Homo sapiens: one gene and its partners. The protein of the gene in region 3 purifies or fractionates together with the protein of the main gene of each other region. This does not show direct contact. Each region holds a gene or a part of one and is shown on either strand. Other genes may lie near its edges.

Region 1 (3,655 bases), on a different chromosome or scaffold from region 3:
ACCATGTAGCCAAGTTGTATAGTAGGCCATACCATCTAGGTTTGCATGAGTACACACTGTAACATTCACACAATGACAAAATCACCTAACCATACATTTCTCAGAAAGAATCCGTGTAGTTAAGTGATGCATGATTGTAATAAGTAGAAGGTTTAAAACTTTGAAGAGCAGACATCAGTCAAATTATATTTTATAACTTATATTTATATAAATGTACATAGCCATTTATATTTTTCTCAAGACATTATGTCATAATCAAATATGACTTCCAATATGTTCTCAGCCTTTACTGGTTAAACTTTCCTCCTTGAACTGTTTCAAAGATTAGCGAGCTGGTCCCATCAACTCCTGACCCCTCATTTTAGGAAAGAAGGATACAAAGGGACCACCTAAGTTCAAGCTGGCCACTGCTCATCTCTCTCTCCATCTTATACTGAGATGATGGACAGTAATGACTTTCATTTGAAACTTTTCATTTTGGGAGCCCTGAGAGACAAACTTCATCTATTTTCTGACATAGGATGAAACAATTATAATGATGTAGTCCAAAGTATAAAGATACATGCTTTTATTTCCTTTCTTATAGTAGTCCAAATAAATAATTCCATGGAGTGGAAGGTCCCTGTTGAACCTCCCTTTCCTAGTAACAAGTGACCAACTCCACTGTTCGCCACTGCTCACCAATGAAGTCGCAGCTGCAATAAAATTGACTAAAAAACTGAGGGAGGATTAAGGATACAGAGTACCCAGTATATTCTCTCTCTGAATTCTTTCTCTCAATTGGGAAGAGATAACTGCCATATTTTTAAAGGTATTGAAAATCCACATTGGCCAAGAGCTTATTCTATTTTCAAGTAGAGATGTTGCAAAGATGCAAGATTCTCAAAATATAGTGAAAGGTTGAAAATTAAAAGACTTATGCTTTCATCATCTTTTCTTTATCATAACATGCATAAATGTTCTTATAGACTGATATGACAGGTCCTTCAGTACCATATGCTCACAGTGACAGTTTATCTAAAGACTAAGAAAGCTCTTCTATAAATCAAATGCTGATGTTCCCAGGCTGTTGAACCAGAATTGTTCAAGGGTCTCTGTCACTCAGTCACTGCAGGTTCTAGTTCAAAATTTTGGATTTTGAATTTTTCCATAGGTGAAAACATGCCATGCATAGTCACTATTGAAATAAAAATCACTTGCAAATAATTAGGTGATAAAAACTACAACTTAATAACAGCAATGACTTCTTGAGCTTTATTGTAAGTATGGACGTTTCTAAACTGAAAAATATTAAGCTTTCCAGTTTTATTATATTATGAATTTAACAAATTTTTCTTTAAACTAAGCCCACTTAATATAAAAATCCCCAAATTAAACACATTTTAAATTTTATAAACCTCCGTAAAATAATTTTGAATTAAAGGAGCAGAGGGGGCAAGTGCTGAAAAGTTCTCTTCTTTTGTCAGAAGCCACCATGGTGAGGTTGATGACAACAATGATGGTGGGATTAGTTAAAAACAGTCAGCTTTGGGGAGGAAGCATTTAATCACTGTTATTCTGTATATACACTGCTATGAGAAAAATCCTCTATCAGACTAATATGGTCAAAATTATGCCTGATACACAAAATATAGTTTTTAAATTTGGTTGGTACAAATGATTTCCTTAACTCAATTTGTATAGTGCCTCCTTTGTGTGAGACAATGTGTAGTTATAAACAATAAGAAAGAAATATAAGGGATAATATCGAATATTAGAGATAGTACAAATTCTAATTATGAGTTTGTATTCTCGATAAGCTGAAAGTTAGGGGAAGCTCCACATGTTGAAAACACTGTAAAACATGGGGTAGGGAGGGAAGGGGAGAAAGAAAGAGTTTTAAGTGTTCATATGGATTTGACCCAGCCATCCCATTACTGGATATATACCCAAAGGATTATAAATCATTCTACTATAAAGACGCATGCACACGTATGTTTATTGCAGCACTATTCACAATAGCAAAGACTTGGAACCAACCCAAATGCCCAGCAATGATAGACTGGATAAAGAAAATGTGGCACATATGCACTATGGAATACTATACAGCCATAAAAAGGATGAGTTCATGTCCTTTGCAGGGACATGGATGAAGCTGGAAACCATCATTCTCAGCAAACTAACACAGGAACAGAAAACCAAGCACTGCATATTCTCACTCTTAAGTGGGAGTTGAACAATGAGAACATATGGACACAGGGAGGGGTACATCATAAACCAGGGCCTGTCAGTGGGTTGGGGAGGCTAGGGAAGGGATAGCATTAGGAGAAATACCTAATGTAGATGATGGGTTGATGGGTGCAGCAAACCACCATGGCATGTGTATACCTATGTAAAAAACCTGCACATTCTACATATGTATCCCAGAACTTAAAGAATAATAAAAATAAATAAATATTTTTTAAAAATGGTGATGACATAGAGTTTTAGAGCCTATTTAAGTAAAACAGTGCTTTTTTGCATAAAATGACATTTCAAGAAATTTAGGAATAATCATTGGTGGGAAATGTTGATAGGTTCCATGATTCCAAAATTACAAAAAATAACAGGAAAATCTGGTAGGTAAAACTTAACAAATATTAAATTAACACATGAATTGATGACCTAATTTGTATTGGCCCAAATGTTAAAATTATAGCTGCCCAGTCACTTCAGAAAGAGGCTTATTCATTCCATAAATCACAAAATAGTCCACAGGTATTTTTATTTTTATTTTTTTTTGAGATGGCGTCTCACTCTGTTGCCCAGGCTGGAGTGCAGTGGTGCTATCTCGGCTCACTGCAAGCTCTACCTCCTGGGTTCACGCCATTCTCCTGCCTCAGCCTCCCGAGTAGCTGGGACTATAGGCGCCCACCACCACAACCAGCTAATTTTTTGTATTTTTAGTAGAGACGGGTTTTCACCGTGTTAGCCAGGATGGTCTCGATCTCCTGACCTCGTGATCTGCCCGCCTTGGCCTCCCAAAGTGCTGAGATTACAGGCCTGAGCCACCGCACCCGGCCAGTCCACAGGTATTCTGAGTTACATCATTGTATAGTGAAGAAGGTGGTCACATTTCACTGACTATATTGAAAACTGTAGAGTTCCGCTGCTGAAATATGCTTTTCATTCAGTGTCAGACTGGGAGAGCTGTGCACTGAGGCATTAATATCCGTGTGTGGACTGACTACCAGACAAGCATGATTTAATTGGAAGCGATATCACCATAGCATTTATGTAAATTGGCACAAATTCCAAAATCCTAGTAAACCTAAGAGAAAATCAAGTTGTGGTAAAGAAAGAAAATGCAATAAAAATTAAAACCAAGTATGCCTGTTGATGTGCATTCAGAGTCATGGGGAGAATCTGCTCTAAGATACTAATGAACTTGGAATGGCAATTAGACACATTTATTGGGAAAGAATATTTTTATTTTTAAAACCTCTTGCAAACTGTTCTCGTAACCTCTGATTCTAATGATTGCTTTCCTTGTGCCCTGTTTACAGTTGCTTCATGTTAACACTGCCTCAGGATATGGAAACTCTTCTAATAGTCAGGTAAAGACAATATGTTCTTTTAGAAAAAGAGAAGGTGAGCCAGGTGCAGGGGCTCAAGCCTGTAATACCAGAACTTTGGA
Region 2 (3,556 bases), on a different chromosome or scaffold from region 3:
ATAGGGGGTGTACACCCCCTGTGGTATTGGGAGTAATGTCAGCTTCTCACCTTTTGGTTATTAAGAACAATGTCACGGGGGGAGGATGTAGACCCCTGCAATATTGGGAGTAATATCCTCTCCACCCCTGGATATTAGGAACAATATCAAAGGGGGGGTGTACAACCCCTGCAATATTTGGGTAATATCATCCTTGTCCCCCCTGAATATTAGGAACAATATCACAGAGAGTTTAAACACCCCTTGTATATTGGGAGAGATATTCTCCCCTCCCCAACTGGGTATTAGGAACAATATCAAGGGGGGGTGTACACCTTCTGTGATATTGGGAGTAATATCATCTTTCTTCACTCTGGACATTATGAACAATATCACAGGGGGGTGTACACTGGCAAGTAATATCATCCTCTCCCTTCATGGGTATTAGGTACAATACCACAAGGCGTCTAGGGACACCTGAACAATCCCCAAGGGAAAGGGGGTTCAGGCCACACTTGGGATTGCCCAGGTCAAGGTGCCCAGGAACCATGGCCTCCAGGGGAAACCAAGAGTTTCAGATGAATTCAGTGCTTGAGGGCAGAACCAATGAGAAAATCTAGTCACATTTCTACAGCGCATCACCGTTAAAAAAAGGATTCTCTGTTATGCTAGGCAAGGAGGGATGATTATTTATTAGCTTCTACAGATTAGACAATGGGGTGGGGGTGGGCTCAAGGTGAGATGATTTTTTGGGTCCAAGTCTACTCAAGACAGGCATCCCAGTCTTCGGTCTCCAAATCCACCTCCTGTCTGTCCCCCCACACTGCTCCTCAGGCCTTGTGGATCCATTGACTGTGATTTCTGTGGTTCAGCTCCCACATCAGGCAGGAAGGGCAGCTACTGGGTCTGAGATCCCACATTGCCTCCAACCCTTGCTTCCTAGCTGGCCTCCCAGGGCACCACGAGGGGCTGGGCCAGGCTGCTGTGCTGCACGTGGCAGGAGTAGGGGGCTGTGTCCTGCGGGGGCACTGCCACCACCACCCAGGACTGGTAAGTGCCATTTCCATTGTGAAGAACATCTCCCCGTAACTCAGGCTCCTGCACCTCGCCGGCCCGAGTCCAGTGCACATCAATTTTCCCTGGGTAGAAGTCGTAGGCCAGGCACTTCAGTTTCTTCTTTTCTCCTGGGGCCTGGTGGCTGGTGACCACCACAGAGGGAGGATCTGTGGAGGGATAGAGTGTGACACTGCAGGCTTGAGGTGGACTTCTCCCGGCCCAGGTCTCTTCCTACCCCCACCCCTGGATGTCAGCGATCAGCAGAGCTCGAAGCTCTGTACCTGCCCACCCCCAGCCCCGGGAGACTTTCCAGAATATCAGGGAAGGCTGACGCTTTCCCTCTTGCCCAATCCCCACCTCACCCATGTATTGACTCTGACGGCAATAAGTTGTGAATGCTCCGTGTGCTTCTCCATGTTTTCCCACATCTCAGTGGGCTTTGGAGTTCTGTCCCCCAGTCTCAGTCCAGCTGCTTGGTTCAGCCCATGCCTCTATCCAGCAACCACTTCCCTGCAGCACTGCACAATCCTGAGTCTCACTACGTCTCCAATCCAAGTCTCAGCTTGCAGCCATCAATTCCGCTCACACTGGCTTGCTCTTGTCCTTCTGGGGCTGACATTTTACACGCCTCCCTTCTCTCCACCACCCAGATGGGAGGCATCATTGTAGAGATAAAAAACGATGGGATTTGGAATCTGAAATCTGGAATTTGAGTCCCAGCTCTGCCTCTTACAGACAGTGTTACCCTCACCTCCCTAACCTCAAGCTCCTTGTCTGTTAATTGGAGATGATTTGGGGACACTCATCAAGAAAGAATGGCCTTCCTGGCCCATTCTGCCTGAAATTTTGATGATGTTCTTTTTGGACCACAAATTATATTATCCCAGGGAAGGAATAAATCCTAAAAGATGAAAGCTGGGGGTCTGAGGGACATCCAGGAACAGATGAGACCGGACTAAGATGTTGCCTGAGCTCCTAGCCTGAGATCGTCTTTTATTCTGGGCTCAGTACTGGGGAGCAGGAAGCAGTGAGTACCTTGCCGGTCCAGGATATTTTTGCTGTATTTCAGGTATTTCCGCAGAGTCGCAGGGCACTCCTCCTCCAGGTAAGCCTTGGCCCGCTGCACGTAGACTGGTTCTGCCTCCCACTTCTGCTTGGTTATCTGGGCTGCTGGGTCGAAGGGGACCCAGGCTGGGATTTCTTTGTTGAATTCAATGTAGTCCTTTCCATCATAGTAATATTTCCAGAATGCTCCGCTGCTTCTGTTATTCTCGATCTCACAACCAAACCTTCCCTGCAATACGTGAGACCCTGAAAACTCCCCCGACCCCACAGAGAGACAGTCAGCCTGGTGAGAAATTTATCAAAATAACTCTTAGTCTTGCACATTGGGCAACCCAAAAGAAATAAAGGTTTTTGCAATTCAAGCATGCAATCCCTTTATCAAGACAAATAGGTTATTACTCCAATATATACAACAGACAGAGAGGGGCTAACTCAGTTTGGTTTGGCATTTCAGGTTTGTCTCAGATGAGATATGTTCCTCCTTAAGAGAGCTACAGCCTGGGCGCTGTGGCTCATGCCTGTAATCCCAGCACTTTGAGAAGCTGAAGCGAGTGGATCGCTTGAGCCCAGGGGTTCCAGACCAGCCAGGGTGATATGGCGAAATCCCACCACTACAAAAAATATAAAAATTAGCGCAGCATGGTGGTGCATGCCTGTAGCCCCAGCTACTCAGGAGGCTGAGGTGGGAGGATCACTTCAGCCTGGGAAGTCAAGGCTGCAATGAGCCAAAATCACACTACTGCATTTCAGCCTGGGTGACAGAGTGAGACCCTATCTCAAAAAAAAAAAAAAAAAAAAAAAAAAAAGCACCAGGCCCAGTGGCTCACACTTGTAATCCCAGCACTTTGAGAGGCTGAGGAGGATGGATCACCTTAGGTCATGAGTTCGAGACCAGCCTGGCCAATATGGTGAAACCCCATCTCTACCAAAAATATAAAATTAGGCTGGACGCAGTGGCTCATGCCTGTAATCCCAGCAGTTAGGGAGGCTGAGGCCAAAGGATCACCTGAGGTCAGGAGTTTGAGACCAGCCTGGCCAACATGGTAAGACCTCATCTCTACTAAAAATACAAAAATTTGCTGGGTGTGCTGGCACATGCCTGTAATCCCAGCTACTCATGAGGCTGAGGCAGGAGAATCGCTTGAACCTGGGGGACAGAAGTTGTAGTGAGCCGAGATGGAGCCATTGTACATCAGCCTGAAAGACAGAGCAAGACTCAGTCTTAAAAAAAAAAAAAAAATTAACCAGGAGTAGTGACACATGCCTGTAGCCTGTAGTCCCAGTTATCGGGAGGCTGAGGCAGGAGAATCCCTTGAACCCAGGAGGCAAAGTTTGCAGTGAGCTGAGATTGCATCACTGCACTCCAGCTTGGGTGACAAGAGCAAAACTCCATCTCAAAAAAAAAAAAGCTACAGAATATGAATATATTTCTATCTCTTCTATAGCATCTCTTCTA
Region 3 (3,655 bases):
CATAGCTTCTAAGGAAATTTAGCTTTCTTAGTTCCTGGGTACAGAGACAATCAAGGCAGGGCTTACCCTTTTGTTGCCTAGAAAAACAATGATTACCGTATAGCACACTCCTTCTCTATGCATGGAGACCACTGGTGTTAATTTTCTGTGTGAAAGCTACCCATTTGCAGATTACTAGCTAATCTTCACTCTAACTATCTAATTTCTTGTAGGAGAGGGTAAGTCCTCTCAGTGAAAACACAGACACATTTCATTCACGAATGCTGACATAAAGCCTTGGAACTAGGTACTTCTAAAGCCTCCAAATTATGAAGTACAGACTACATTACAATTAGTGTGGTTTATGTTATCAAATATAAAAAGTAATCAAGATGACTTGGCACAGGCTCATTGTCCTCTAAAGCACACAGATTCAAGGTCAATATTTGCTAAGTTGTCATTTGCCTGTAGAAGGGACACATCACAGGGTAGAAAATAACATAAGCAAAGATCTGGACAGCAATTGTGGTGGGCAGAATTTCTAGAATGGCTTACCAAAGATGTCCTGCCCTGAACCCTGCAATCTTTGAATATGATGACACGTCACTCTCATGACCAGGTTATGCTGACCTAGACAGAGTTATCTAGGTGAGTCCAGTGTAACTGTGGGAACTGTGAAAAGCAGGGGCTATTTCCAGCTGGTGGCAGAAGAGAAAGTCAGACAGATTTGAACCACAAGAGGAATTCAATGTGCTATTACTGTCTTGAAGATGGAAGAGTCGTGTGAGAAGTAATACAGATGCCTTAAGCAGCTGAGAGAGGCCGCTGGGCTACAGTCAGCAAGGAAATGGGGCCTCAGTCCTACAATTGCAAGGAGCTGGGTTCTGCCAGCAGCCTGAATGAGTGTGGAAGCTGACTTCTCTCCAGGAGGGGTCCAGCTGAAATTCAGATAAAGGGAGCAGGGCATCCTGGCAGCATTCAGTTTGTGGCAGCACCATCCTCAGAGGGTTGGGAAACAAAGGTTGCATTCTTACTTTAAGGAGCTGATAAAATAGTTATATCTAATGAAGTATCTCCTTCCATCCCCAATTCCTTTAACTCTTCCCTCTGTGATACCAACAGAATCAACCAAAACCAGCCTGCTCAGAAGCCAGATGTCCTCCCTCAGGAGCTCAGCTTGCAGTGAAAGGAAGGATGGCCTCTCCAATGCCAGCAGCCGGAGGACTGCTCTAAGTGACAAAGGCAAGCCAGAAAGCATCTCTGTGGCCAACCAGCCTCCCTTTCCACAGTGTATCTGTTCCAGAAAGAGCTGCGTGTAGATATGTTGGGGAAATCATATTTTAAATGGGCCCAGATTGCTTCCTATTCAAAGGAATCCCTTGTAAGTCAGGTCTGCCTGCTTTATGACCTGGATTTTCTGAGAGCTGGCCTTGTGCTTATGGTGCCTGGGTGTTTAATACACACGTGGCTCACATAACTATGGTCATGCTGCTGCCCCTCCATGGTTTGATTTTGAAACTGTCATATTTCATAGTTGATTTTTTTTCTTCCCTTTCTTCAATGGATGATGCTATCAGATGAGCCCCTCTCTGGTCCAAATTGTCAGCCTTTTGGGGACTGCATATGAGGAAAATGTGATTTTCCCACTCAATTTTTATTACTATTGATAAAATTATTAATCTTAAAGTAATAAGTTTTGAAACGTTTGATGCCTGTAACATTTTTCTTTTATTTCAAATGGTTGATACATTTAAAATCCCAGTTAAACACACACATATACACACAATCCCCTAGGGAGTAGGAAGTGGCTGAGTAGCAAATGTGCCCCTGTGGCTACACAGTCATAGTTTAATTTAGAACTCTGTTTTCTTCATTGCTGATCTGTCTGATATCTTTTCCTCACTTTTTTTTTTTTTTTGAGGTAGAGTCTCACTTTGTTACCTAGGCTGGAGTGCAGTGGCGTGATCTCGGCTCACTGCAACCTCTGCCTCCACGGTTCAAGTAATTCTCCTGCCTCAGCCTCCCGAGTAGCTGGGATTACAGGCAGCCGCCAACAGGCCAAGCTAATTTTTGTATTTTTAGTAGAGACAGGGTTCCACCATATTGGTCAGGCTAGTCTCAAACTCCTGACCTCAAGTGAGCCACCCGCCTTGGCCTCCCAAAGTGCTGGGATTTTGGCCGGGCACAGTGGCTCCCTTTCAATTAACCTGCCATATTTCCTAAGTTGTCTACATGCACATTCCTTAAAGGGCTTATCAAATGATGATTGGGATATGATTTCTTAGCTAGTTAACTAGCTCACACCCAAACACGCCTCCTTCTGAATGCTGCTCATTCAACAAATATCCCTTTTCATTTATAAATACACATTTATATAAGGATATATGTAAAACCCCAAATATTAATTTGAAAATTTGAACTTACAACTAAACAGGACCTAACAGGTTTTTTGGTTTTCTACAGAAAGCTGAAGAACCACTAAACAATCTATCAGAAATTAAAATGTTGATCAAGGCTCTCATATAATTTGGGGGAGTCCAAAAGGTCAATATTGAACAATCATTGGTTAATGGTATTTTTATTGCACACTTTTTAGAGGTGTGTTTTCTGAATGAAAGAATGAATATGTCTCATTGTCTCAAAACAGTGGTAGTGCCGTATTTACCCATGCATTGGTCTGTAGTGTAAATTGCAAAGGAATCTTGCCTGAGAGCCCGCTCTGACAAATCAGGATATGTTCTCTGAAATGTGGTCCATTTATTAGCTCTCAGTCACAGCTGGACTGAGACAAGCGTGATCCCTTTGCATTTTATGTAAAACCCATATGTGAGGAAAATATACAACTGCCACTTCCCCTTCCACAGAAATGAGCATCTTGCTGGCTGAGGAGTGGCTGGATGACAAATCGTCAGAAAAGGTGACGCGAGAAGGAAGCCAGGTTTATGACCACGAGTGAGTTCTTTAATTTGACAAAGACAGTTCTGTTATGCTTCTGTTGGTTAACCATCAAGTTGTAAATTTTAAAACACCACCTCCTTGTGTTCTTAGTTCTTCAGATGTGTCTTCAGAAAACTGGCTGAAGACCTATGGCTTGGTCGCCAAGAAACTCACCCTCATGGATGCCTTGTCAGTGGCAGCAGTCCCGCACAGCTCCACCTATGTTCCCGTCCTGGACAAGCATGTCGTGTCTAAGGTCTTTGATGAGGTAAACTGATTGTCTATACGTCCCTACTTGAGGCCATTTTCATTTTCTGCTCAAATAAAAAGTAGTCCAATTTCTTGTGTGGTTGTAACAGAAATGTATTTTAGCCACTGGGGGAAAAAGTATTTGTAAAGGCAGTAAAAGGGAGAGAGAGAGGCTTTTAAGAATTTGGGCGCGGTGGCGCATGCCTGTAACCCCAGCACTTGGGAAGGCTGTGGTGGGTGGATCCCTTGAATCCAGGAGTTTGAGACCAGCCTGGGCAACATCGTGAAACCCTGTTTCTACAAAAAATACAAAAATTAGCCAGGCATGGTGGCATGCACCTGTAGCCCCAGCTACTTGAGCCACTGAGGTGGGAGAATCGCTTGAGCCTGAGACATCGAGGCTGCAGTGAGCGGTGATTGCGTCACCGCATTCCAGCCTGGGTGACAAAGCGAGATCTTGTCTCAAAAACAACGAAAATAAGAATTCTCT

The links.
Region 1: the proteins of VWA3B (region 3) and SERPINB7 purify together in Homo sapiens (affinity purification with mass spectrometry; one large-scale study listed by BioGRID and IntAct). This does not show direct contact.
Region 2: the proteins of VWA3B (region 3) and AZGP1 purify together in Homo sapiens (affinity purification with mass spectrometry; one large-scale study listed by BioGRID and IntAct). This does not show direct contact.

What each region holds. Positions count from the first base shown.
Region 1 is NC_000018.10:63,788,869-63,792,523, forward strand, and holds part of SERPINB7 (serpin B7), read left to right. Parts: intron 1-3,524; coding exon 3,525-3,575; intron 3,576-3,655. UniProt on the Homo sapiens protein: Might function as an inhibitor of Lys-specific proteases. Might influence the maturation of megakaryocytes via its action as a serpin.
Region 2 is NC_000007.14:99,966,085-99,969,640, forward strand, and holds the end of AZGP1 (zinc-alpha-2-glycoprotein precursor), read right to left. Parts: intron 2,347-3,556; coding exon 2,071-2,346; intron 1,203-2,070; coding exon 919-1,202; 3' UTR 646-918; downstream 1-645. UniProt on the Homo sapiens protein: Stimulates lipid degradation in adipocytes and causes the extensive fat losses associated with some advanced cancers. May bind polyunsaturated fatty acids.
Region 3 is NC_000002.12:98,233,547-98,237,201, forward strand, and holds part of VWA3B (von Willebrand factor A domain-containing protein 3B), read left to right. Parts: intron 1-1,101; coding exon 1,102-1,221; intron 1,222-2,843; coding exon 2,844-2,931; intron 2,932-3,027; coding exon 3,028-3,184; exon of another isoform or gene 3,185-3,258; intron 3,259-3,655.